4 linked regions of the Homo sapiens genome follow. The protein of the gene in region 1 interacts with the protein of each later gene in a pairwise test. Each region holds a gene or a part of one and is shown in the gene's direction. Other genes may lie near its edges. The genes, in order: VMAC, ZNF80, TFAP4 and ZNF326.

Region 1 (6,834 bases):
GATCTCCTGACATGGCAACTCTGTCAAAAGTTCTGACCTCCCCTTCTAAGACCCTCTGGGGAGCACCCCCGGTCTCAGAGGCCCTTCACTCAGCAGCACCACACCCCGAGACAAGCTGTCTCCTCCAAAGGCCTCCTGAGACCGCAGCCCACTCATTTTGTATTCACACATGAGGAATGCACACACTCTCTCACATGAACACCAACATACGCGTCTTTCTCAGTTTCAGATCCTATCCCCTGGGTGGCCCCCTTCAGCCCTTTCTCTTGAAGACCCTCGATAAGGACCTGATGGGAACATTCCTTGCTTCAGAGACCCCTAGGAGCAGGTCAGCCGACCTGGACTTGCAGCCCAGCTTCAAATGACCCTGGAGCAGTTAATATGCTTCTCCAACCTTCAGTCCCTACCTGTAAGAAATGGAGACACAATAACGTCTGTCTTACTATTAATAAATATGCAAAATATGGGAGTGATGATTAGGTCTGCCCTAATTCAAATGCCTCCCAATGGAGCCGCAACTTTGGCCGGGCCCTGTTTCACATATGCTGGAAATACAGAGTTGACCAAATTGATTCCTCAGCTTATAGACACACCAGGTTGTAAAGACTGTTTCTTTGGGTTTTTTTTTTTTTTTCTTTTTGAGACGGAGTCTTGCTCTGTCGCCCAGGCTGGAGTGCAGAGGCGCAATCTCGGCTCACTGCAAGCTCCGCCTCCCAGGTTCACGCCATTCTCCTTCCTCAGCCTCCTGAGTATCTGGGACTACAGGTGTCCACCACCACGCCCGGCTAATTTTTTTTGTATTTTTAGTAGAGACGGGTTTTCACCGTGTTAGCCAGGATGGTCTCGATCTCCTGACCTCGTGATCCACCTGCCTCGGCCTCCCAAAGTGCTGGGACTACAGGCGTGAGCCACCGCGCCCGGCTGGTTTTGTTTTGTTTTGTTTTTTGAGACAGCGTCTCACTCTGTCGCCCAGGCTGGAGTGCAGTGGCACAATCTCGGCTCACTGCAACCTCTGCCTCCTGGATTCACGCCATTCTCCTGCCTCAGCCTCCCAAGTAGCTGGGACTACAGGCACCCGCCATCATGCCTGGCTGATTTTTTGTATTTTTAGTAGAGACGGGGTTTCACCGTGTTAGCCAGGATGGTCTCAATCTCCTGACCTCATGATCCGCCTCCCAAAGTGCTGGGATTACAGGTGTGAGCCACCATGCCCGGCCTATTATTTTTATTTTTTGAGACAAGGTCTCGCTCTGTCGCCCAGGCTGGGGTGCAGTGGTGCAAACATAGCTCACTAGAGCCTTGAACTCCTGGTTTCAAGTGATCCTCTTGTCTCAGCCTCCTGAGTAGCTGGGACTACAGGTACGCACCATCATGCCCAGCTAATTGTTTTACTTTTTTGCAGAGATGGGGATCTTGCTATTTTGCCCAGGCTGGTCTGGAACTCCTGGCCTCAAGCGATCCTCCCACTTTGGCCTCCTGAGCGCCGGATTACAGGTGTGAGCCACCGCGCCTGGCCCAGTTTGTAAAGATTCTTCATCAGAGGGAAGAGGACTTCCAGCTCCATCTGGGACCTGATGAGTCCCAACCTGTGGCTGAGAATTAAAGGGCATGATGCCCATGAAACGCTCAGGCTGGAAGGGGCAAGACTCAGATTTACTCTATAAGAGAATGCCAGGGCCGGCCGGGCATGGTGGCTCACGCCTGTAATCCCAGCACTTTGGGAGCCCGAGATGGGCGGATGGCCTGAGACCAGGAGTTCCAGATCAGTCTGGCCAACACGGTGAAACCCCGTCTCTACTAAAAATACAAAATAATTAGCCAGGCGCGGTGGCGTGAGCCCGTAATCCCAGCTACTTGGGAGGCTGAGGCAAGGGAATTGCTCGAACCAGGGACGTGAAGGTTGCAGTGAGCCGAGATCTCGCCACTGCAGTCCAGCCCGGGCGACAGAGCAAGGCTCTGTCTCAAAAAAAAAAAAAAAAAAGGAGAATGCCAGGGCTTGCGGGTCCCCTTCATTCCCCTGCAAGGCTACCCTCATAGTAGCTCCTGATCCACCTCACCTAGGACCTCTCTGGCGGTCCCAGTAAAAGCTTCAGGTGTCCCTAACCACCCAGCACCCCCTGACCACAGAAAGACCTCATCCCACCCCAAAACTTTCTCAAACATCTGTACCGCCCTCAGATGCCCCAATCATGACTCATGATCCCCTCTAACAATCTCTACCCCGTTGGAAAGTCTCGTGGTCCCTTAGCTCCTTGGACCTGATAATAGCCCTGTCTCACTCCACAATTTCCCCGAGCCTGGCGATAGCTTGGGACCGCCTCAGATGACCCCAGGGACTAGCTTGTCGCATGTCACGACCTCCCAGTGCTCCCCAACCCTGCTGGACCCCCTACCAACATCCATTTCACACAAGATCCCCCCCTACGACCGCCCAAGACACCCCGATGACAACCACGTGCGTACCCGCGAGACTCCCAGACCCGTTCGATCCAAACAGCCCCCAGTAACCCCACGACCTCCCTGCGGCCTCGGCCCTCCACCCTCGGGGCCCGGCCGGCGCTCACCAGCGACGCTGGCAATACTGGTGGTGCTGTAGGCTTTGCGGTGGCAATCGGTGCCATCGGGGATATCCCAGTACTGACGAAAAACCTTCGGCGCCATAGCCCGCAATCTCGATCCCGCACCACGGACCCCGCCAGCTCGGGAAGCGCAAGGGCAGCCGCGGCTGGCTATCGCGAGACTTCTCGGGCTGCGCGCGCAACCTTTCGGGCTAGCGGGCCGGCAACAAGTGAGCAACTTTATTGATAGGCGCGGACATGGACATGGATCGCGCGCACGCGCCGGGGACCGGCCTGGAGGAAGAGAGTAGCACGTGCATCCCCAGGCCGATTCCTAGAGGGTGAAACTGAGGACGACTGCGATCAGTGCAGACAGATTTCGCTAGTCCCAGCTCAGGGAGTCCTAGGTTAGGGACTACTAGAGGCGGGGACTATCTACTAGGGGAGGGGCCGGGCTCAGACTGGGACGGGCGGGACTCCAGTTGATAGGAGCAAGACATGACGAAACAATGACTGGGGGGCGGGGCATGGCGGGGATGTGGCCACACCCAGTGTCAGAATCTGCATAGCGAGTGGTCATGCCCTGTGGTCAGTCACCAAGCTGGAGTCTGAGCAGCGTGCTACTGTTTTGGGCCGTGGACAGGATCAGGGGCGGGGATTATCGGGAAAGTGACCAATGACAATACGAGAAGCTCAGCGGGACGTGGCCTCTGTTCACCCCGCGGCTGTCCCACGCCCTAGGCCGGATGAAGTACACAGGCGCTTGACTTGGGGGCGTGGCTAGAATTGGAGGCATAACCTAAAAGGGACTTGACCAATCTGAGACTGTATAAGGGATGAAGGGGCGAGGCCGTGCCTGGATCTACCCCTGACAGGCCACAGGTTCGGGGGGCGTGGTCAGGCTTGCTGTTTCGCGGAGTCCGGGCCAATCCTGGTGTTAGCTTCCAAGTAGGGAGGGGACAGTATCGAAGGTGTGACCAATCTTGTTTCCAGAGCCTGAGTTGCGCGAGCCGCCAAAGGATGTGGCCAGCCTGGGGGCGTGGCTGTCAAGATCTTGTCCAATCCTAGAGTGAGCCCAAACTCAGGGGCGGAGTTTCATGATCCCGGAACCGGTGGTAGTGTTTGGGTTTGAGGAGAGCACGACCCAGCCCTCTGGGGTGGGGTCTAGCGGGGTCAGCGACCAATCGCGCCGAGGTCTAGTGGGGCGGGGCCCTCCCGGGGGCGGGGCCTGTGCCAGTTCCGGGCCGCCTGGGGGCGTGGCCGGGCCTGTACAGCAGCCTGGGCCATGTCGGCGCCGCCGGCCCTGCAGATCCGGGAGGCAAACGCACACCTGGCAGCCGTGCACCGGCGCGCAGCGGAGCTGGAGGCGCGGCTGGACGCGGCGGAGCGCACGGTGCACGCCCAAGCCGAGCGCCTGGCCCTCCACGACCAGCAGCTGCGCGCCGCCCTAGACGAACTGGGTCGCGCCAAGGACCGGTGAGGCCCGGGGCCGGCCAGGTGGACTTCACCGAGGCGGTAGGCGGAGGCAGAGCCGAGGCTGGAAAGCGAGGAAGGGCAGGGGGAACCGTGTGCACTTGTATAGACGCTAGACTGAGTATCGGATTGATAAAAACACCAAAAAACTCGAATTAGTAATCAGTATGTAAAGTTGCGAGAAGTGACACAGGTGTGGACCTCTAACTTCAAACAGGCCCACTTTCCCACAGGTGCTGAGCGACGCAGGGACCACAGACCGCCCAGCGTAGGCATTGGGAGCCATAGCAGGCTCTTCAGCAGGGGAGGAGGGGATCATATCAGCATTTTAACTTTTAAAATTTATTATTATTTTTTTGAGACGGAGTTTCGCTCTTGTCGCCTAGGCTGGAGTGCAGTGGCGTGATCTCAGCTCACTGCAACCTCCACCTCCCAGATTCAAGCGATTCTCCTGCCTCAGCCTCCCGTGTAGCTGGGATTACAGGCGCCCGCCACCACGCCCGGTCGATTTTTTGTATTTCTAGTAGAGACTGGTTTTCGTCACGTTGTGCAGGCTGGTCTCTAACTCCTGACCTCAGGTGATCCGCCCGCCTCAGCCTCCTAAAAGTGCTGGGATTACAGGGGTGAGCCACCGCACCCGGCCTAAATTTATTATTTTTGAGGCAGGGCCTCACTCCTATGCCCAGGCTGGAGTGCACCTCGACCTCCGGAGCTCAGGTGATTCTCCCACCTCAGTCTCCCAAGCAGCTGGGACTACAGGCGTCCACCACCACGCATGGCTTATTTTTTGTATTTTTTTGTAGAGACAGTTTTGCCCTGTTGCCCAGTTTGGTCTTGAACTCCTGGGCTCAAGCAGTCCTCCCACCTCACCCTTCCAAAGTGCTGGGATTACAGGCTAAGCCACCATGCCTATCTATTATTTTTGAGAGAGGGTCTTGCTCTGTTGCCCAGGCTGGAATGCAGTGGTGCGATCTCGACTCACTGCAGTCTCACCCTCCCTCCTCAGCCTCTCAAGTAGCTGGGATTACAGGCGTGCGACAGCACACCTGGCTGATTTAAAAAAAAAAATCCTTTAGAAATGGGGTCAGACTATGTTGCCTAGGCTGGCCTTGAACTCCTGGGCTCAAGTGATCCTCCTGCCTCAGCCTCCCGAAGTGCTGGGATTATAGGCACGAGCCACCATGCTGGCCCATATCAGCATTGTTGAAGAGTCCCTCTGACAGCTGAGGATGAAAGAGATGAGACAGGCACCCAGGGAGGTGGGAGGAGCTGGGTCCCAGGTGGGAACTATTACTTCAGAGCTAATTGGACATATTCATTTTTACCGAGCACCTGCTCTGTGCCAGGCACTCATTCATTCGTCTTCATTGAGCACCTACTGTGTGTCAGGCATTCTGCTGAGTACTGGAGCACATCAGTAAGACTTAGCCTTGCCCATTGGGTATCCACAGTCCAGTGGAGAGACAGACATGTCACTGGGCAGTTACATCATTGGTGGCCAGCGGCCATGATGGAGGGGCATATGGGGCTCTGAGGGATCTCAGAGTGAAGGCTTCCCAGAGGAAGAGCCTACTAAGAATAGGTGGGAAAAGATAATGGAAAGGAACGAACTGCAGGAAGAGTGAGGGGACGAAATGAGGGTTCTCATAAGAAAATGCCATAAACTGGCTGGGTGGTGGCTCACGCCTGTAATCCCAGCACTTTGGAAGGCTGAGGCAGGCAGATCACCTGAGGTCAGGAGTTCGAGACCAGCCTGGCCAACATGGCGAAACCCTGTCTCTACTAAAAATACAAAAAAATTAGCTGGGTGTGGTGGCACACGCCTGTAGTCCCAGCTACTCGGGAGGTTGAGGCACGAGAATCGCTTGAACCCAGGAGGCGGAAGTTGCAGTGAGCCGAAATTGTGCCACTGCACTCCAGCCTGGGCAACAGAGAGAGACTCTGTCTCAAACAAACAAAAAAACAAAATGCCATAAATTAAGTGGCTTAAACAAGAGGTTTGTTTCTCAGCGTTCTGGAGGCTGGACGTCCGAGAGCAGGGTGCCAGCATGGTCAGGTTATGGGAGGGCCCTCTTCCGGGCTTGCAGATTTCTGGCTTCTCTCTGTGTCCTCACAGGGCAGAGAGAGCCAGGGAGTTCTTTTGTATCTCTTCATATAAGCACACTAATCCCATCATAGAGACCCCCACCCTGACAACCTCATCTAACCCTAATCACCTCCAAAAAGCTCCATCTCTAAATACCCTTCTGCTATGGTTAGACTTTGTGTTTCCACCCAAATGTCAGCTTGAATTGTAATCCCATAATGCCCACGTGGTGTGGAAGGAACTGGTGGGAGGTAAATGAATCATGGGGGATGGTTTCCCCTTCATGCTATTCTCATGATAGTGAGTGAGTTCTCATGAGATCTGATGGCTGGGCGCAATGGCTCACGCCTATACTCTCAGCACTTTGGGAGGCCGAAGCGGTCAGATCACCTGAGGTCAAGAATTTGAGACCAGCCTGGCCAACATGGTGAAACCCTGTCTCTACTAAAAAAAAAAAAAAAAAAAAAAAAAATTAGCTGGGCATGGTGGCACACGCCTGCAGTCCCAGCTACTGGGGAGGCTGAGGAGGCAGAATTGCTTGAACTCGGGAGGCGGAGGTTGCAGTGAGCCGAGATCACACCACTGCACTCCAGCCTGGATGACAGAGCTAGATTCCGTCTCAATCAATAAGGGAGATCTGATGGTTTTATAAGGGATTCCCCCTTTGCTGGTCTCTCACTGTCTCTCCTGCTGCCCTATAAAGAGGTTCCTTCCATC
Region 2 (7,433 bases), on another chromosome or scaffold:
TCAATTCAACCCAAAGTGGTAAGTATGTATATCTTCTGGAAATGTGACACTATGTTCTAAGGGGCTATACTATTGGAGTCATAGGGTAAGGCCACAATTGTGTGAATGAAGGTGGATTCTCTACTGAAGGAAGAAGATAATATACTGATTAGGCATCTTTGTAAAATATGGAAACAGAAAATGGGGAATACAGGCCTGGATTGGGGTTAGTTCCTCTGTCTGGACTTTGACTTCGGCCTAGACACTGTGGAATTGAGGCATGTGTGAGATGTTTCTGGGTGGTAGAGAAAAACTGGCCTCTTCCTAAAATGGTGGTGAAGAGAATGGGCTCTGAGCAGAAGGGAGCTGTATGGAGGCCAGCTGAATGGACTGGGAACTGAGGACTCCAAGAACAGCCCTATCTAGTAGCCAGTTGTTATTCTTTATATGAACGTCCCTCTGTGATCCCCAGCCCTAAGAAAAGTCTTGTTAAAGCCACAGTTTGGTCTAACACTAGAGAGTTTATGTTCATGCCTGGATTACAGTGATAAGGGGAAGTCCATGGGTGTGTCCAAGGACCAAAAATTGCAGGTGAGAGTCTATAGTCACATTGGTTAAGTCATCCACAGGATTCCTTGTGAGAAACCCCCTGAGAATTTCCAGAGAGCAGACTCTGGGCATTGTTACTGATATGATCTAATTCGTACCAACTTTTTGCTGAGATAGTCACATTACTTACAAGCTTTGCTACTGACAGCTCAAATGAGAGAAATTTTTTTTATCATTTTTAGGAGCTGTTTTATATCATTAAAACCATATGCTGAAAGACAAATTCATTAAAGAAAAAAATAGACATTTCCAAGAAATAAAACTAATGCATTTTGTAACCGCCCACATGATCATGGTTAGATTGCATGTATTTAGTGATCAGCTTTCTTTAACTCTTTTTTTTTTCTCAAGACAGAGTCTTGCTCTGTTGCCCAGGCTGGAGTGCAGTGGCACCATCTTAGCTCACTGCAACCTCCGACTCCCAGATTCAAGTAATTCTCCTGCCTCACCCTCTTGAATAGCTGGGATTACAGGCACGTACCACCACGCCCAGCTAATTTTTGTATTTTTAGGAGAGATTGGGTTTCGCCATGTTGGCCAGGCTGGTCTCAAACTCCTGACCTTGTGAACCGCCTGCCTTGGCCTCCCAAAGTGCTAGAATTACAGGCCTGAGCCACCGCGCCCAGCTCTTTAACTCTTAAAAATAAGCACAACAGAGACCAGGAATGACACTTTGAGAACCACTGCTGGAGAGAACTTCACCATCAAATGTGCAGCGTCCTAAGAATGATGAAGGCACTGTCCCTGGCAAGACAGTTCAGAACCGATTCAGAAGAGCTCATGCATAGCAGCCTAAGTCATTGCCATCCACTATTGCCTCCCATCTTGGGGAGACTCTTGCTGTCTGGATAACACAGCTGAGCCTTCTGCCTTGTATTGTGACTGTACTGATTTGTTCCAAATACTTTGGGTGAGAAAACTCTGTTGGATTTTTCAGTTAGCATGTCTGCCTGCTCTTTTATTTCTCTGACCCCAATATTTATATCTTATAAAACTAATCAAGCTGGTGATACCAGTAAAATTTCACACTACACACATTCTTAATTATGAAACATTAGAAGAATTTTTTTTAATCAGCAAAATGAAAATGGCATTTGATAGCACCTCTTCTTTTCAATATAGTAGATAGAGGTTCTGGCCAGCACAGAAGAAAGAAAAATAAAACAAAGTATAAGTATTTGCTAAAAGTCAACGTGCCAGGCCACCTCACTGGGAGAACTGCAATATCAGCGTCTTTGGGTCTCTCCTCTTGAGCTGATTAGATTCTGAGAGAGGAACATTCCAAACAGCTGCTATGACGAGCAAAGAGGGGTGGAGTGAGGGGTCCATATGTCAGTGACCATCAGTTCTCTTCTTCAGTATTCGCCAGAACTGTCCAATTTGCTTCTCATTCCCTGGTTCCAAGATCCTCTCTTCACTTTAAAAACCAGCTGCATTTTGGGAAGGGGAGGGCAGTGGATCAGGGTCTTGCTCAAAGCTCAAGCCACTGCCACCAATCTCCATATGATGGCTTCCACTCCTCACCAGCTCCAGAGCGATTTGGTGCTGTTACACCCTTCATTTTTGAGGATTCTGCAACATAAACTGTGATGCTTCCCTGGCTCCCCTGGGAGAAGTACTGGACGGCAGCAGTCCCAGGCGGCTGAACAATGTTGTATTCTGTGTAGCGGCCATCCTCTTTCCTGAACTCTCTCCAGGTGTTTGCTAATGTGAGCATTCTGGAACACATTTCCTGGTACATGTGGGAAAGCTTTGTTTTGGAAAGACCTTTAGGACATAGGACCAAACTTTTCCAAAGTGATTTTACTAATTACAGAACCATCCACAACATAAAAGAGATCCTGAATTTCCATGTCTTCTCCACACTGAGTATTTTGACTGGATTGACTTTAATGGCCAGCCCCTTGGTACAGTTTATCGTGGGGTCAGCGGGTAAAATTAAGTGATAAGTGGGACACACTCTCTCCACGCCCTGCATGAACAGGTTCCTTACATGTATGTTCTTATGTGCACGTTTGTGCGCAAGCTTGCAGGTCGCCCCGACCCAACCGGCATCAACTTCCATTTAGAATAATTGAGGGTTAAATTCCCAGGAATTAAAAAATGAAACTGAGGCCTCTGAGACTTGTAGTTCGGCTGGCGGAGGCTGCACGCGGCTCTCTGGTATCTGTAGTCGGAAGTACTCTCTGCATATGCGGATGCAGGTGCCGCGTGGCTTTTGTCTTGCTCCATTGCAGCGACATCCGAGGCAGTGGTGCAGGACATGTCCATGATCTTAACCTGGAAGAAGTGGGAGCAGCTGGACCAGCCCCAGAGGACCCCGTACTGGGAGGTGACACCAGAGACCTGCAGACCACTCGTCACGGGGGCATGCAAACCACAGTTGACCTACTAGCTGAAGCAGTGATAAAAGAGCAGAAAATACCTTTGCTAAAGCTGCTGTCCAGGTGACAAAGTAAAAGCCAAAGCCAGCCAGCCTTGTCCTAGGGAGCCTTGCTCCTGGAAAGACTAACTCAGGGAGCCAGAAGTTCCTCCAGGTTGAGGTGAGTGAGGGAAAGAGTGGTTGTGAGAGGTGACAGCGTGCTGGCAGTCCTCACAGCCCTCGCTCGCTCTCGGCGCCTCCTCTGCCTGGGCTCCCACTTTGGCGGCACTTGAGGAGCCCTTCAGCCCACTGCTGCACTGTGGGAGCCCCTTTCTGGGCTGGCCAAGGCCGGAGCCGGCTCCCTCAGCTTGCAGGGAGGTGTGGAGGGAGAGGAAAGAGCGGGAACCCGGGCTGCACGCGGCACTTGCGGGCCAGTTGGAGTTCAGAGTGGGCATGGGCTTGGCGGGCCCCACACTCGGAGCAGCCGGCCGGCCCTGCCGGCCCCAGGCAATGAGGGGCTTAGCACCCGGGCCAGCGGCTGCGGAGGGTGTACTGGGTCCCCCAGCAGTGCCAGCCCACCGGCGCTGCACTCGATTTCTTGCTGGGCCTTAGCTGCCTTCCCGTGGGGCAGGGCTCGGGACCTGCAGCCCGCCATGCCTGAGCCTCCCACCCCCTCCGTGGGCTCCTGTACGGCCCGATCCTCCCCGATGAGCGCCGCCCCCTGCTCCACGGCACCCAGTCCCATCGACCACCCAAGGGCTGAGGAGTGCGGGTGCATGGCGCAGGACTGGCAGGCAGCTCCACCTGCAGCCCCGGTGCGGGATCCACTGGGTGAAGCCAGCTGGGCTTCTGAGTCTGGTGGGGACATGGAGAACCTTTATGTGTAGCTCAGGGATTGTAAATACACCAATCAGCACCCTGTGTCTAGCTCAGGGTTTGTGAATGCACCAATGGACACTCTGTACCTAGCTACTCTGGTGGGGCCTTGGAGAACCTTTATGTCTAGCTCAGGGATTGTAAATACACTGATCAGCACTCTGTATCTAGCTCAAGGTTTGTAAACACACCAATCAGCACCCTGTGTCTAGCTCAGGGTTTGTGAATGCACCAATCTACACTCTGTATCTAGCTACTCTGGTGGGGCCTTGGAGAACCTTTATGTCTAGCTCAGGGATTGTAAATACACCAATCGGCACTCTGTATCTAGCTCAAGGTTTGTAAACACACCAATCAGCACCCTGTGTCTAGCTCAGGGTTTGTGAATGCACCAATGGACACTCTGTATCTAGCTACTCTGGTGGGGACTTAGAGAACCTTTATGTCCACACTCTGTGTCTAGCTAATCTAGTGGGGACGTGGAGAACCTTTGTGTCTAGCTCAGGAATTGTAAACACACCAATCAGCGCCCTGTCAAAACAGACCAGGCCTCTACCAATCAGCAGGATGTGGGTGGGGCCAGATAAGAGAATGAAAGCAGGCTGCCGGAGCCAGCAGTGGCAACCCGCTGGGGTCCCTTTCCACACTGTGGAAGCTTTGTTCTTTCGCTCTTTGCAATAAATCTTGCTACTTCTCACTCTTTGGGTCCACACTGCTTTTACCAGCTGTAACACTCACCGCAAACGTCTGCAGCTTCACTCCTGAAGCCAGCGAGACCACGAGCCCACCGGGAGGAACGAACAACTCCAGACGCGCCGCCTTAAGCCTTAAGAGCTGTAACACTCACCACGAAGGTCTGCAGCTTCACTCCTGAGCCAGCGAGACCACGAACCCGCCAGAAGGAAGAAACTCCGAACACATCCGAACATCAGAAGGAACAAACTCTAGACGCGCCACCTTAAGAGCTGTAACACTCACCACAAGGGTCCGCGGCTTCATTCTTGAAGTCAGTGAGACCAAGAACCCACCAATTCCGGACACAGTTGGAAATGCAGAAGGGCACTTGAGTTTGGCTGCAGTCTCCCACACGGAGACCTTCTGGAGGAAGATGAGCCCTAAACGCGATGGGTTGGGGACAGGTGATGGTCTGCACTCACAGGTTTTACAGGAGCAGGTCTCCACAGGAGACAATCTCCATGAATGTGACTCCCAGGGACCAAGTAAAGACACTTTGGTTCGTGAGGGGAAGACCTACAAATGCAAGGAATGTGGGAGCGTGTTTAACAAAAACAGCCTCCTTGTTCGACATCAGCAGATTCACACTGGGGTGAAGCCTTATGAATGCCAGGAGTGTGGAAAAGCCTTTCCTGAAAAGGTCGACTTCGTTCGACCCATGAGGATTCACACAGGGGAGAAGCCCTGTAAGTGCGTGGAGTGCGGGAAGGTCTTCAACCGCAGGTCGCACCTCCTGTGCTACCGCCAGATTCACACTGGAGAGAAGCCCTATGAGTGCAGCGAGTGTGGAAAGACCTTCAGCTATCACTCTGTCTTCATCCAGCATCGTGTGACCCACACTGGAGAAAAACTCTTTGGGTGCAAAGAATGTGGAAAAACCTTTTACTACAACTCTTCCTTAACCCGGCACATGAAGATTCACACTGGAGAGAAGCCCTGCAAGTGCAGTGAGTGCGGGAAGACCTTCACCTACCGCTCTGTTTTCTTCCGACATAGTATGACCCACACTGCAGGAAAGCCCTACGAGTGCAAAGAATGTGGGAAAGGTTTTTACTACAGCTATTCCCTCACTCGACATACAAGGAGTCACACTGGAGAGAAACCTTATGAGTGCCTTGAACATAGAAAGGACTTTGGCTACCACTCTGCTTTTGCCCAACAGAGTAAGATCCACTCTGGAGGAAAAAACCTTTGAGTGCAAATGATGTGGGAATTTGTGGGTTTTCTTTTTTTTTTTTTCTTTGATACATAGAGAGCCACACTGAGGAGAAGCACTCTGAATTCAGTGGCAGTAGGAAAGCTGTGACCTGCAGCTCATCCTCACTTGGCATTGAAGAATTCCTTCCAGAGATAAACTCTATGAGATATGTGGGAAGGCCTTTTGCAAGTGGGCCCACATCAGTCAACGTCAGAGAACTTAAACTGCGAAAAGACATTTTGACAAAAACTAGTGAAGAAAATCTTTTGGCCACAGGAAATATCTTCCTCAGCATCTGAGAATTTTTCCAGGAGGGAGACCTGTTGGTTATTGTGCACTTAAAAGAACCACCCACACCTCTCTCCATAGTTTATATCACTAAGCCACTTCAGGATTTTTTTTTTTTAAGTAAGAAGGGAACTGTAAAAGAGAAAAAAAGAAATTCATGCATAGCTTCTGTCAGACTTCTCTGAAAGCCATGCCTATCAAAATTTGAATTCAGTTCTTCATTTTGCAGATGGCTGAAAGGTACAAAGGCCTTGCCTCGTTATTTGTCCTTTATATGTATTCACTCCTGTCTACAGGAGAATTGTCCTCTGTAAAGATTAACTCTGTAAAGATTTATTGAATGCATTCTTTGTTCTAAAACATTGTACTCCTGAGGAATGTAAGTCTTTGTGAGAAATATGAACGCTTAAGTAATGGAATATGTGAAACTTGTAAGAACGTAGAATATAAAAATACTGCCATATAAAATCCTTTCATATCTGAGGAGGTAAGTAACCACATTGAATGGGCATATTTTGCTACATCATTTAAGACTACTTAAGGCTTTAATTTAACAAAAAACAATTCTTCATGTGGTTTTGAACACCCAGTGCTCAATATACTTGTTTGTTTTGATTTATTTTCTCAGGGACGAGAGAATGATGGTGAAGCTGTGTTGCTTTCCCAGGTGAGCCTTGATTATTTCCTCTGTGCTTTCTCAGCTTCTTTGGCCTTCTGTAAGAGGGGCTTCTCCAAGAGCATGTCACTAGTTTTCTAGAAGTTAAACAAGAGCTAAGACAAACAAAACAAAACACAGCTTATCTAATCTAATGAGAAACTCAGAAAAAAATGTTTTGATGAATACAATGTATTAAAATATAAAACATGTAGATCCTTTGACATGTTAATTCAATTCTAGAAATCCTCAGAAATGTTTTTATATTATGCAGAGATGTGCGTGCAAAGAATAATCGCTGCAGTTTTGTTTTTATGTGTGAAACGTTGAGAACAATCTAAATGTTTATCAGTTGGAAGTAAGTTATGGTACATCTGTTCTATGAAATACTGTGAAACAATAAGGTATCTCTGTATGTACTGATATCAAAACATCTCTAAGATACAGTATTTAGTAAAAGAGAAAGTTTCAGGAAATAAAACTACATCTAGAAGTATAAGCATAAAACTGTTAATAGTGGTTTTCTGCAGGAAATGGGATGGACCAGGGTTATATGCAATGTTCAGTTTTTACTTTTATACTTAAGTATTGTTTATGTTTGAAAAATAAAAAGCATTTATTGTTTTTGCAATAAATGTTTAAAATATTTCAATAAAGATAGCATGTTAGAATAAAAGTGACTTCTATTATTTCTTAAAAAGCGTACATTTTACAGGGTGTTTTTTTTTAAG
Region 3 (6,365 bases), on another chromosome or scaffold:
ACAGGCATGCACCACCACACCTGGCTAATTTTATTTTTTTGTAGAGACAGGGTCTCACTACGTTGCCTAGGCTGATCTCAAACTCTTAGGCTCAATGATCCTTGGCCTTGACCTCCCAAAGAACTGGGATTACTGTGCCTGGCCCGGGGTGGGTTCTGAGCGGACTATCTTACCCGCAGCCAGCTGATTCAGTCCGCCCCGGTGTCCCAGAGAGCACCCCTCCATCACTCTCTGGGGGTGGCCTGGCATCTTTTGCAGCAGGGGAGGGATGCAGTTTCCACTGGGGCCCTCTGGAGATGAATGATGAAGAGGGCGCCTTGGCCGAGCCTGTCCCTGTCCTCTCTGGCAGCCTTGCCAACATTCCACTAACCCCCGAGACTCAGCGGGACCAGGAGCGGCGGATTCGGCGGGAGATCGCCAACAGCAACGAGCGGAGACGCATGCAGAGCATCAACGCGGGATTCCAGTCCCTCAAGACCCTCATCCCCCACACAGACGGAGAGAAGCTCAGCAAGGTGGGTGAGAGCAGGGAGGGCTTCCTGGAGGAGCCGGCAGGTTCCCGCTGGGAGAGGAAAGTGAGCTCTGGTAAACACTGCCAGCCTGACTCTCGGCTTTTCCACGCCCTCAGGCAGCCATTCTCCAGCAGACAGCCGAGTACATCTTCTCCCTGGAGCAGGAGAAGACCAGGCTCTTGCAGCAGAACACACAGCTCAAGCGCTTCATCCAGGTGCGCCCTGTCCTTCATGGCTCCCTCTCCCTGGCATGGGCATGCCTTGGACCCAGCCATGGGCCTGGGACTCAGGTGTGGCTGCAGGCCCCTTCTTGCCCACTGACAAGTACTTCCAGGCACTTTTTTTCCTGCCCCGGCCTCAGTTTCCCCATCGGTCAAGTGCGGTGGAGTGGGCTCTGGAAGGAGCCAGGTGACTGTTATGTAAAGCAGCCCATTCTCCTGGCATTTGGCTGGTTTGTTGGACTTGCAGAAGGGGCTCCCTAATGAAGATTCACCTGTGTTGGGCAGCTTTGGGGGGCTGCGATGGAACCCCAATCTCCGTGGTGGTACCGAGGTGTCAGGCACACTGACCGACTCCTTGGGGTCCCCAGGAGCTGAGCGGCTCGTCCCCCAAGCGACGGCGGGCAGAGGACAAGGACGAAGGCATAGGCTCCCCGGACATCTGGGAGGACGAGAAGGCGGAGGACCTGCGGCGGGAGATGATTGAGCTGCGGCAGCAGCTGGACAAGGAGCGCTCGGTGCGCATGATGCTGGAGGAGCAGGTGAGGCAGCGCCCTCTGCTGGGCACGGCGCGCGGTGCAGAGGGCGTGGAGCCTGGGGTCGCGCCTCTTGCTCTGCGGCCCTCGGTGGAGCCCTATTTACAGGAGCACCTACTGCGGTGCCAGGCCTAGGAGTGGGGAGCAAGCCAGACACGTCTCTGCCCTTGGGGGCCACCGTCTGCGTTGGGGTGGGGGAGATTAGCCAAAGGATCTCAAAAATGTAACCATGCTGTGGGAGGCCGAGGCGGGTGGATCACCTGAGGTCAGCAGATCGATACCATCCTGGCTAACACGGTGAAACCCCGTCTCTACTAAAAATACAAAAAAAAAAAAAATTAGCCGGGCGTGGTGGTGGGTGCCTGTAGTCCCCGCTGTTTGGGAGGCTGAGGCAGGAGAATGGCGTGAACCTGGGAGGCAGAGCTTGCAGTGAGCCGAGATCGTGCCACTGCACTCCAGTCTGGGAGACAGAGCGAGACTCCATCTCAAAAAAAAAAAAATGTAACCGTGATGGGCTGGGTATGGTGGCTCACACCTATAATCCCAGCACTTTGCGGGGCTGAGGTGGGAGGATCGCTTGAGCCCAGGAGTTTGAGATCAGCCTGGGAAGCATAGTGAGACTCTGTCTCTACCAAAAAAGATACAAAAATTAGCCAGGTGTGGTGGGGTGTGCCTGTAGTCCCGGTTACTCAGGAGGCTGAGCTGGGAGGATTGCTTGAGCCCAGGAGGTGGAGGCTGCAGTGAGCCATGATTGTGCCACTACACTGCAGCCTGAGTGACAGAAGGAGACCATGGCTCAAAAAAACCAAAAAACAAAAACAAAAAACCATATTGAAGGCCAGGCTGGAGCTGTGGCATCAGGAGGGGTTTTTCAAGGGACGCCCCACGGCATCTCCATGGAAGTGGGAAGTTGAGTCTCATAGTTAACCAAAGGACAGAGAAAGGTGTTCCCGGCAGAGGGAATAGCATAGGCAAAGACTCGGGCAGGAGGGAGCATGGTCCAGTGGAGGCCGAGGTGGGAGGCGAGAGGAGCCGGGGGCTGAAGGGCTCTGGAAAGGCTTCTGGCCTCTGTTGAGAGGGGCCCGCCCTGTGCTAGGGTTTTCAGCAGGAGTGAATGAGCTGCTGTGAGACTGACAGGGCAGGGTGTGCTCCCGGCCTTGGCCCTGAGCCCAGGTTGTCCTGCCTCCAGGTGCGCTCGCTGGAGGCCCACATGTACCCGGAAAAGCTCAAGGTGATTGCGCAGCAGGTGCAGCTGCAGCAGCAGCAGGAACAGGTGAGGCTGCTGCACCAGGAGAAGCTGGAGCGGGAACAGCAGCAGCTGCGGACCCAGGTGAGCAGGAGGCGCCCGGGAGTGGGCTCTGGGGACCGGGAAGGGGACAGGTGATCTTGAATGGCGGAAGCCTCTCCCTAGGCCACGTCCTCTCTGCTTCTTAATATAAAGGGGCAGAGGCAGTTATACATTGGCCAGCTCTGCATGAAAGGGAGGTGGATGGGCCAAGAGAAGCCTTGAGAGAAAGGCTGAGGGCCTCTGTCTTGCAGCTTCTGCCCCCTCCGGCCCCCACCCACCACCCCACGGTGATCGTGCCAGCACCGCCTCCTCCTCCCTCCCACCACATCAATGTCGTCACCATGGGCCCCTCCTCGGTCATCAACTCTGTTTCCACATCCCGGCAAAATCTGGACACCATCGTGCAGGTACCTGAGCTTGAGAAAGGGGCAGCTTGTGGGGGTCATACTCCGGGAACAGGCTCTTTAGGGGAGACTGGAAAAGAGGGGCAGAAGCGGAGGAAGATGGTGCTTGTGTGGGAAGGGGTGGAGGGCTGGAAGCCTTGGGGGGCCCCGTCCCTGGATCTGCAAGTGGAGAATGTGAGGGCCAGAGATCGGGGCAGGGCCTACCACGCCAGTAGGAGGAGTTGGCCAGGAAGACTGTCCCTTCCCTCAATATGGGGTTTCCGGAGAGGGTCCTTTGCTCCCAGAGCCCCCTGGTTACAGAGTTCCTGCATCCAGCTCTTGGGTTGGTCCGGAACATTGTCTCAGCTCCATCTCCTAGGACCTGGATGGAGATACAGGTGGCAGGGCTGGTGATAGTTGGGCCTCCTACAGAGGAGGAAGCTTTGTGGGTCAAGCCTGAAGTTACAGTTGCATTCACCCTTGAACAGGGCCCCTTGAGGAGCCCAAGATCAGAAATCAGTAAATAATAAATAAATAACCAAAAAAGCCAAAACAGGAAAAAAAATCCATCAATCTCCTCGAATTTTAATTGCTCATAAACTTTGCAAATTGTGTAATACAATTAATAACAAACGCCTTTAATAAGTTAATAGGCAAGCTTTAAAATACATAAACATATGGCCGGGTGTGGTGGCTCACACCTGCAATCCCAGCACTTTGGGAGGCCAAAGTGGGTGGATCACTTGAGGTCAGGAGTTCGAGACCAGCCTGGCCAACATGGTGAAAACCCCATCTCTATTAAAAATACAAAAATTAGCCTGACGTGGTGGTGCACGCCTGTAATCCCAGCTATTCGGGAGGCTGAGGCAGGAGAATCGCTTGAACATGGGAGGTGGAAGTTGCAGTGAGCTGAGATTGCACCACTGAACTCCAGCCTGGGTGACACGGTGAGACTCTTTCTCAAAAAACAAACAAACAAAAACATATGAAAGGTCCATATTATTTCTTTTTTTTTCTTTTTTTTTGAGATAGAGTTTCGCTCTTATTGCCCAGGCTGGAGTGCAATGGTGCTATCTCAGCTCATCGCAACCTCCTCCTCCCAGGTTCAAGTGATTCTCCTGCCTCAGCCTCCCAAGTAGCTGGGATTATAGGCATGTGCCACCACGCCTGGCAAATTTTGTATTTTTAGTAGGCTTCTGGCCTCTGTTGAGGGGCTGGTCTCGAACTCCTGACGTCAGGTGATCCTCCCGTCTTGGCCTCCCAAAGTGTTGGGATTACAGGCGTGAGCCACTGCGCCTGGCTGATACATATAATATAATTTCTAAGCAGCACTGGGACTGTCATCTTCCCAGAATGGATTTTTCAACTTAACAGAGGGGTTTTGAAAGTTTGTTCCTGGGTCAGGCGTGGTGGCTTATGCCTGTAATCCCGGGACTTTTGGAGGTTGAGGCAGGAAGATTGCCTGAGGTCAGGAGTTCGAGATCAGCTTGGGCAACATAGCAAGAACCCCCTCGTCTCTACCAAAAATACAGAAGTTAGCTGGGGATGGTGGCGCACCCCTGTGGTTCCAGCTACTAGGGAGGGAGCAGTAGGAGGATCGCTGGAGCCCAGGAGTCTGACTGCAGTAAGCTATGATCATGCCACTGCACTCTAGCCTGGGTGATATAGCGAGAGCTTGTCTCCAAAAAAAAAGTAAAAGGAGTTTGTTTTTCCTGTACTCTAGCGGGCCTCCCCTGCTGCTTTGCCAGGCTTTTTTCTGGGCTATGTGTTTTGGGGGTGACAGTGGCTGGCTGAGAGCCCCCACTGTCTCCTGGCTGGCCATGTATCCCCGGCCGAGCCTTCTCAGTGGTTCGTCCCTGTCCAGGCAATCCAGCACATCGAGGGCACCCAGGAAAAGCAGGAGCTGGAGGAGGAGCAGCGGCGAGCTGTCATCGTGAAGCCTGTCCGCAGCTGCCCGGAGGCCCCCACCTCTGACACCGCCTCCGACTCCGAGGCCTCAGACAGTGACGCCATGGACCAGAGCCGGGAGGAGCCGTCGGGGGACGGGGAGCTTCCCTGACTACCCCCCCAGCCCTCCTCTCCCTTCTGGGGGCTGGAGGGAGCCGGGGCAGCCACAGGGAGAGACATGGGCGAATGAGTGAGAAATTTTTACAAAATTACGATGTCATTTGGGTCTCTTTTATGACCTCTTTTTCAATACTGTAAATCGACCTTTGAACGAAGCCACTCAACCCGAGGTCCCGGGGCTGGGGTGTCGCAGAGCGTGTGGGAGCATCGGCACCCCAGGGCGGGGCCTCGGCCCCGGGGGCTGGAGGAAGCTGACACGGAGATGCCTGGCCTCTCTCTGCCAAAAAGCATTTTTTCCTTTAAATATGTTTTTTAAGAACAGGGAAAATTAAACAAAACCCCAGGTTATTTCTTCCCTGCCCAGAGCCAGCCTGGGATTGTCAGCCTTCAATCCCCTTTCCTTCCTCTTTTTGGGTTTTCTTCTTTCTCCTTTAAGCACTTACATGGTTGGGGGTAAGACTAGGCTGGGGCATTCTGGGGGCCCGGAGGTCTCCGTTGCTTCTTGGTTGGGGTTTGCTGCTGCTGTGCCCCCCTCCCCCTTCCCCATCTCGGCACTAGAATTCGCCACTCTCCCACCCCCCAGCCCCCACCTCTGCCTCCAGGTCTCATCTTCCACCCCAAAAATGTCTGTCTCTCTCTTTTTGTTTTGTTTGTTGTTGGTTTTTTATTTCTTTTTGGTTTGCTTTCTGTTTTTGTTTTGTTTTTCTTTTTTTTCTTTCTTTTTTTTTTTTTTTTACAATTTTGAGGTCTTCGTGTTCAAGGAGAAGCTATTATATTTTGTTAAGAAAGTGGGGAGAAAAAAACCAAGAGGCCACCGTGCCTTTGTAAAGAAACAAAATAAAGTTTGTACTTTGTTTTTTAGATTCTGAGTCTCCTGGGTGTGGGCTGGCCTGAAGACCAGGGCAGGGCTACCCCATCTAGAGTAGGGGGGCTCCTTGGGCCCCCCAAAGCGGACTGGGTGTGTGTGAGCACAGTTACTCCCTCAGCTTGTGTGTGGTGTTGCGATGAAAAATTGGGGTCCTCAGTTTCCCTGGGATGACCCTGGGTATTCTGTAAAGATGGAAGATGGTGTTGAGGCTGGGGAGTGGCTCTTTGGTGGGCGGCAAGGAGAGAAGGACAACCAAGCCACCGATTCCGAAAACCTGGGAAAGGACACAGGTGTTCAGGGGCCCTGCTTGGTCCCTACGCTTTGGTTAATCCCTAGGTTTTGCCACTTCCTGGGCTTCTGTAACTTCTCTGAGCCTCATCCTCTCCTCCCCTAGGAGGGGAACCCCACCCCCTCCAACCGCACCCCCCCAGCACCCCCCTGCCCCCCCGTGGTGTGGTGTTTAAGTGCTAAGATCCTGGAATTGGTCTGCCAG
Region 4 (7,027 bases), on another chromosome or scaffold:
CCAAAGTGCTAAGATTACAGGCATGAGCCACTGTGCCTGGTCCAAACAAAAATTTATATATGAATGTTTATAGTAGCATTATTCATAATTGCCAAAAGGTAGAAACAATTGAAATATACATCAACAGAAGAATGGTTTAAAAAATGTGGGTTATTCATACAATGGAATATTATTAAACCATAAAAAAGGAAGTACTTACTAATACATGGTACAACATGGGTGAACTGTGAAAACATGCTAAATAAAAGTCAGACCAAAAAGGCAACAGACAGGATGATTCTAGGTATATGAAATACTTAGAATAGGCAAATCCGTAGATCAGAAAGCAGATTAGTGGTTACCAGGGCCTTAGGGTAGGGTTGAAATGGGGAGTGACTGCTTTATGGGATGATGAACAGTTCTGTAACTAGATAGTGGAGATGGTTGCGTAACTTTGTGAATGTACTTAATGCCATTGAATTGCACATTTTAAAATGGTTAAACTAGTAAATCTTATGTTTTGTGTATTTTATCACAATAGAGAATATTTTTTAAAAAAGAGAACAAATTTGCTTTTATTTTGGAGGTTACAAATTTTAAGAAACTTTCTGAGAGCTCCTACAATATGAACATGAGTTCTTGCATCCAGGGCTCTGCAGTGTTTACTGGACTTCCATTTTCATGCTCGGTCAGGTTACTTTAGTGTTTTTCCCAAAGTATGTGATGCCCAAGATGATTTTAGGTGATAAGGATATTATTGCTTAGAATAAGGATAGGACAAATGAGCACATTTAAAGAAAAATATGTAGCAAATAATCACATAGATGACAAGCAGATATGACAGAATTCATGATGATGGTATTCAAATGAATGAAGTTCATTTAGTGAAGTTTCAGAAATACTGGATAGTCTCAAACTCCGATTTTTTTGGTGAGTTCAATTTTAGATTACAATCACTAAGTATACCTCATAAGTATGTACTTTACGAACTGATGATTGGAAAGAGAGAATGGAAAAATGAATTTTAGCTTTTACTTTTTTGTGTAATATCCTAGCAAAAACTGATCCTAAAAATGAAGAGGAAGAAAAGCGGCGAATTGAGGCTCGGCGAGAGAAACAAAGGCGCAGAAGAGAAAAAAACAGTGAGAAATACGGAGATGGATACAGGTTTGTACTTAGAGTCAGAAAATTAGGTTCATTAAAAAATGATTTCCTAGAAAAAGCCAACACATCAATTGTAATATTAAAAAGTTCTTAAGATTCAAATGAAAAGACTTGTTCAAAGATACAGAGGAATGCTTTTGGTTTTTGATATTTATATGTAATCACTACTTAGAAAACATAAGAAAAAAGGCATTCTATTCATATTGGCAATCCAAAAGATATCAAATATTCAGAAATAACAGTATTCTTAAAAAGAAACACTTGTCATTGAGATTTGACTGTATGGAGTCATAGTGATTTTCATGGGCAGGAATTAAATATTACAAATATGTAAGTTCTTTCCAATCCAGATCCCAAAGGAAATTCTGAAGAAGAGTAAATGAGTAGGTACTGGCTTTTATAGATAATCAATCATTAAAAAGCTATAATAGTTAAAAATATGTGGTAATACACAAAGCTAATTATTATACCAGATTAGCCTGTGAACAGACTGTAAGGAAGAATGTAATATTTAATAAAGAGGATATTAGAAATAAGAGGGGAATTGGGCTAGGCACAGTGGCTCATGCCTGTAATCCCAGCACTTTGGGAGGCCGAGGCGGGCAGATCACGAGGTCAGGAGATCAAGACCATCCTGGCTAACACGGTGAAACCCCGTCTCTACTAAAAAAATACAAAAAAAAATTAGCCAGGTGTGGTGGGTGCCTGTAGTCCCAGCTACTCGGGAGGCTGAGGCGGGACGATGGCGTGAACCCGGGAGTCGGAGCTTGCAGTGAGATGAGATTGAGCCACTGCACTCCAGCCTGGGCAACAGAGCGAGACTCTGTCTCAAAAAAAAAAAGAGGGGAATTGGTTGAACAATGAAATAACAACAAAAATCAGTTTAGAGCCTCCTCATATGACACCTGGAATGAATGTAGTAAAAAAAAAATGAAATTACAGAAAAACAAAATGTTCTGCAAGGAGATTTTTTTCCCAGGCTTAAAAGTTATAGAATAAATTACAAAGGAAATTATGAGCAGATTTGGCTAAATAAAAACTTAAAATTTGAAAGGAGTGCAAACAGACTTGGAAAATATAAACATGAGAAATGATTAATGTCCAAGTTAGATTAAAACATCACCCAAATTATTTTAAAAAGTAAGAAAACTAAGCTGTTTAATATGATGAGGAAACAAAAAACAGCTAGTAATAATTTTAAGGAAATTGTTTAAACTTAACAGTAATTTCATTAAACTAAAAATTTAAATAATAGTATGCCATTTTATTACTAAGGAGAAATTTGATTTGCTAATTAAGGAATGGTCAAAGGACGCTTAAAATTTGTTGGTGACAGTATATTATAACTATTAGCAATTTAGCAGTTTTTTAAAAATGTCTAAATTTTTCTTAAAGCCTTGAGCCCAGAATTTTGAGGCCAGCCTGGGCAACGTGGCAAGACCTCATCTCTAAACAAAACAAAACAATCCATAAAAAGAAGAGTAGTTCTAGTTTCAAGAACTACTGCTATTTTTAGTCCTTGTGAGTTCTCTGTCCCATTCATTATCTCTTGTGATTCCTTCTTTTGGTAGAAGTAACAGGCATAGTTAATATTTTGGTGTAGAAATGACTTTAAATTATCAGCGTCTTGGAGTGTAAAAATCATTTTACATTATAAGATGCAATTTTTTAAATTTAATTGCCCTATGAGTACTTTTCTCATGAAAAATTTTAGATATGGATTATGTTCATGTTAATATAATATATAAAATTGTGATATAGAGAAAATGAAAGAATTGAACTTTCATTTAGCTATTTTCTCTGTAACTCTAAATATAAATCTGATGATATAACCAAAAGAATGTTAACTCATAAATTATCATTTTAGGATATAATTTATTTAAAGTAGTCTAAGTTATTTTCATTTATCAGAGCAGTTTTACTTTGAGTTATGAGGATTCGAGATTGAGTAAATCACTATTCTTGTGATAGGTTCCTTCCCTTGGATATTTGAATGCTTCCCACATAATAAAGCACATGGAAAGGTTTATATCTACCCTTAAGGGAACCTAGGGAGAAAGAGATGGATGTGTGAGAGATGTACATAAATAATAGTGTATGGTGAAGGATACCAGGAGTACAATGTAGTCTCATGAGATATAACTTCTAAATAAGGGTATAGGAGACCAAGCATGGTAGCTCATGCCTGTAATTCCAGTACCTTGGGAGGCCAAGGCAGGCGGATTGCTTGAGCCTAGGAGTTCAAAACCAGCTTGGGCAACATGGTGAAACCTCATTTCTACAAAAAATACAAAAATTAGCCAGGTGTGGTGGCACGTGCCTGTGGTCCCAGCCACTTGGGAGGCTGAGGTAGGAGGATAGCTTGAGCTTGGGAGGTGGAGGTTGCAGTGAGTTGAGATCGCGCCACTGCACTCCATAGCCTGGGCAACAGAGCAAGACTCTGTCTCAAAAAATAAATAAATAAGGGTGCATGGAAATCAGGGGAGGCTGCAATGATGGAAGTAGTATTTGAATTGATCTGGGAATGGTAGGGTTACAGGAGGAGTTGTGAGAGGCAGCCCAGGTAGAGGCCATGGCTTGCCATCAAAGCAAACAGGAATGTGTTATTGTTATTTAGAAAATTGAAAGCAGTGTAGATTGAAGTGACTCTAATGGGTGAAAGGTATAATCTAATTTAAACATTTAATGAAGAAATGCTGTGCCAGATAATGTTAAAGGTATTGGTGAGTAAAGCCAAAAAGAAGAGATTAGGAAATTTCCTGGATGGCAGCTGAAAACATTTTTGTCTTTGTTTTTGGAGCTTATGGAGCTAATGAAGCCCTTTGAGCAGTAATGTGCTCTTACCTCCTATAGGAAGTAGCAATAATTAATTGAATAATTATTGTGTTTTAGGAAATGTTCTAAGGGCTTTGTCTGCATTAATTTTTAAAAATCCTCAGACACCTCTGTGAGCGTTCTCATCTCAATGTAAGAAAACCAAGGCCCAGAAAACCAAGTCAAGTAACTTGCCCAAGATCACAAAATGGAATTAGGATATGAACTCAGCAGTTGGCTCCAGAGCTCATACTCTCAACCAGGAAAATAAATCTAATAGCATTGCAAAGAATTAATTGGAAAATGGAGACTGGAGACAGAAACCAGTTATGTGACTGCTGGCATAATTCAAGGAAAAGAAAATAATGTAAAATAGAAACAGTTATTCTGGTCACGGTGGCTCACACTTGTAATCCCAGCACTTTGGGAGGCCGAGGCAGGCAGATCACCTGAGGTCAGGAGTTCAAGACCAGCCTGGCCAAGGTGGCAAAAACCCTGTCTCTACTAAAAATATAAAAATTAGCCAGGTGTGGTGGCGCATGCCTGTAGTCCCAGGTACTTGGGAGGCTGATGTGGGAGAATTGCTTGAACTGGGGAGGTGGAGGTTGCAGTGAGCTGAGATCGCACCACTGCACTCCAGCCTGGGCAGCAGAGCGAGGCTCCATCTCAAAAAAAAAAAAGAAAAAGAAAAAGAAAAAAAGAAGCAATTAGGTGGGACTGTTCATTATGGAGTGGCTCTTGAGCTTACAGATGTATGCATTTGTCCAGTCCAGGCCTATTAGTTATCCCTAAGTGAAGTAGTCTTTAGAAGGCAAGACTTTTATCACCCAAGAATTCCACAGGAGTGAATTATGATTGTCTGGTGGTGTGCCACCTTGCTTTATTGATACTACCATTGGTTTAGAAGCTTGAGGATGGAACAACATGTAAAATAAGTTGCAGAACTTTGGAACTTGATACTTCTTGAGGTTTGTTTTGCCTTTTTAATTGGTCCAGGCTTGAAGTGGATAACTTATAGATCCCCTGATTCAATTTTTCCTACCCGGAAGCTCCAAGGTGGGCTAGAAATGCAAAGTGGTATATGGGTACTGTCCAAATATGTACTTAAATACTGTTTTTTTTGGATTTAAGCTAAGTTTAATTCAGTCATAAAGAGGAAGAAAGGAAATCATTTATGTTGGTAAAATTAGTTTCAATGTTATATTCTTATGAACTCTTTATAGTTGAATAAAGTAATATTTAAAGGAAAACTTTTTTTTCTCTTACAGAATGGCATTTACATGTTCATTTTGTAAATTTCGAACATTTGAAGAAAAAGATATTGAACTGCATCTGGAAAGTTCTTCACATCAGGAAACATTAGATCATATACAGAAACAAACTAAATTTGATAAAGTAGTTATGGAGTTTTTGCATGTGAGTAGCTGTTTTTGAAGTGAGAAGCATTTTATTGATATGAATTTCTTATGATTTCATTTTTCACTCTCCCCATCTCTCACATTTATGTTTCTAAAATTTTAATTTACTATTTAAAGAAAGAGTTGTTTTAAAATTAACTCAGAATTACTTGTGAATTCCTCTATAATAGAATTTGTATTTGTTATTTCAGAAATTATTACATTTTTCACAGTTTCTGCGGGAGGTGTCCTTTAACAACTGTATTGATGTGGAGTCAGCTATCATCCATTAACTGGAGTTGTGCTGGTTACATTCATTCGTTATTTCAGTTGAGCCCTGTAACAATTCATTTTTATCATGAAAGATTATGCTCAGAGCAGTTAAATGACTGTTAAGTGACAATGCCAGGAATTCAGAAATAATGTAGGAGTTTAGCAAAGGGAAAGACAGTTGGGAATGTTAAGGAATGCTTAAAGAAGGGGCTTGAGCTGGACTGTTGATTGTACGTACAATTAATTTGGACAGAAGAGGTGGAATTATTAGAAAGTTAAAAATACAATGATCAGGCCGGGCGCAGTGGCTCACGCCTGTAATCACAGCACTTTGGGAGGCTGAAGCGGGTGGATCACGAGGTCAGGGGTTCAAGACCAGCCTGAGCAACATGGTGAAACCCCGTCTTTACTAAAAATATAAAAATTAGCCAGGCGTGGTGGCGCGTGCCTGTAATCCCAGCTACTTGGGAGGCTGAGGCAGGAGAATTGCTTAAACCCGGGAGGCAGAGGTTGCAGTGAGCAGAGATCGCACCACTGGACTCCAGCCTGGGTGACAGAGCGAGACTCCATCTCAAAAAAAAAAAAAAAAAGTGACCTTTCAGACCACTGTAATTCTCATAGAACTGTGACCCTTAATTAACAATCTTCTGTAATTTATTTCCTTAATGGGTTTCTGTGTGTCCTTTATAACTTAAATACCCACCTACTCTGGAAGACCTCTTAAATATTCTAGCTCCCTTTGATCCCTTTCTCTATATGCTTAAAATATACTTTGAAAAATGAATAATTTTTGTAGGTTCCTAATATTTTATGATTATCTTTTCAATTAAATTATAAACTCCTTGAGAAAAGATGTTAATTCTTATGTAGCAGATACTGTATCTTCCATAGAATGAACATAGTGCTAAGCATTATACTTGAGTGCTCATTGAAAGCTATTTAGATTCTTTCTATTTTGTTTTCTAGGAGTGTATGGTGAATAAATTCAAGAAAACATCTATTCGTAAGCAACAGACAAATAATCAAACAGAAGTAGTTAAAATAATTGAAAAAGATGTTATGGAAGGTAAGTATTTAAAACAAATTATTTTAAAATTCTACATGTATTTTTATATATCATAACCTGTTTAAATGTAAATGATAGCCACTAGAGTGATATAGTACAGTCATATATACAGTAGCTCTGAGTGAGTTACCAGAAATGAACTTCTTTGTCTTCCTGTTCTAATGCTTACAAATTTATCATTACCTGCCATTACTTTCTTCACTTCAGTTTGAGAGGAAAAGTTACCTTTTCCTCTAGATGAAAGATACTTCTCTCTGTTCTCTGTTTCTGTTATTCCTTCTCCCAAAATTCAAGTTATGAAATCTTCTGTTTTTTAGTCTTTCCTTCTCTTTTG

Evidence for each region.
Region 2: the proteins of VMAC (region 1) and ZNF80 interact in binary tests that used the Homo sapiens proteins (3 or more experiments, as listed by UniProt).
Region 3: the proteins of VMAC (region 1) and TFAP4 interact in binary tests that used the Homo sapiens proteins (3 or more experiments, as listed by UniProt).
Region 4: the proteins of VMAC (region 1) and ZNF326 interact in binary tests that used the Homo sapiens proteins (3 or more experiments, as listed by UniProt).

The regions. Positions count from the first base shown.
Region 1 is NC_000019.10:5,901,048-5,907,881, forward strand, and holds the start of VMAC (vimentin-type intermediate filament-associated coiled-coil protein), read left to right. Parts: upstream 1-3,824; 5' UTR 3,825-3,843; coding exon 3,844-4,034; intron 4,035-6,834. Other genes in the region: NDUFA11 (NADH dehydrogenase [ubiquinone] 1 alpha subcomplex subunit 11), read right to left, coding at 2,565-2,661.
Region 2 is NC_000003.12:114,234,576-114,242,008, reverse strand, and holds ZNF80 (zinc finger protein 80), read left to right. Parts: upstream 1-4,430; 5' UTR 4,431-4,934; coding exon 4,935-5,756; 3' UTR 5,757-7,378; downstream 7,379-7,433. UniProt on the Homo sapiens protein: May be involved in transcriptional regulation.
Region 3 is NC_000016.10:4,256,686-4,263,050, reverse strand, and holds the end of TFAP4 (transcription factor AP-4), read left to right. Parts: intron 1-349; coding exon 350-515; intron 516-628; coding exon 629-727; intron 728-1,101; coding exon 1,102-1,272; intron 1,273-2,455; coding exon 2,456-2,596; intron 2,597-2,805; coding exon 2,806-2,961; intron 2,962-4,801; coding exon 4,802-4,996; 3' UTR 4,997-5,865; downstream 5,866-6,365.
Region 4 is NC_000001.11:90,012,092-90,019,118, forward strand, and holds part of ZNF326 (DBIRD complex subunit ZNF326), read left to right. Parts: intron 1-1,034; coding exon 1,035-1,146; intron 1,147-5,225; coding exon 5,226-5,373; intron 5,374-6,593; coding exon 6,594-6,693; intron 6,694-7,027. UniProt on the Homo sapiens protein: Core component of the DBIRD complex, a multiprotein complex that acts at the interface between core mRNP particles and RNA polymerase II (RNAPII) and integrates transcript elongation with the regulation of alternative splicing: the DBIRD complex affects local transcript elongation rates and alternative splicing of a large set of exons embedded in (A + T)-rich DNA regions.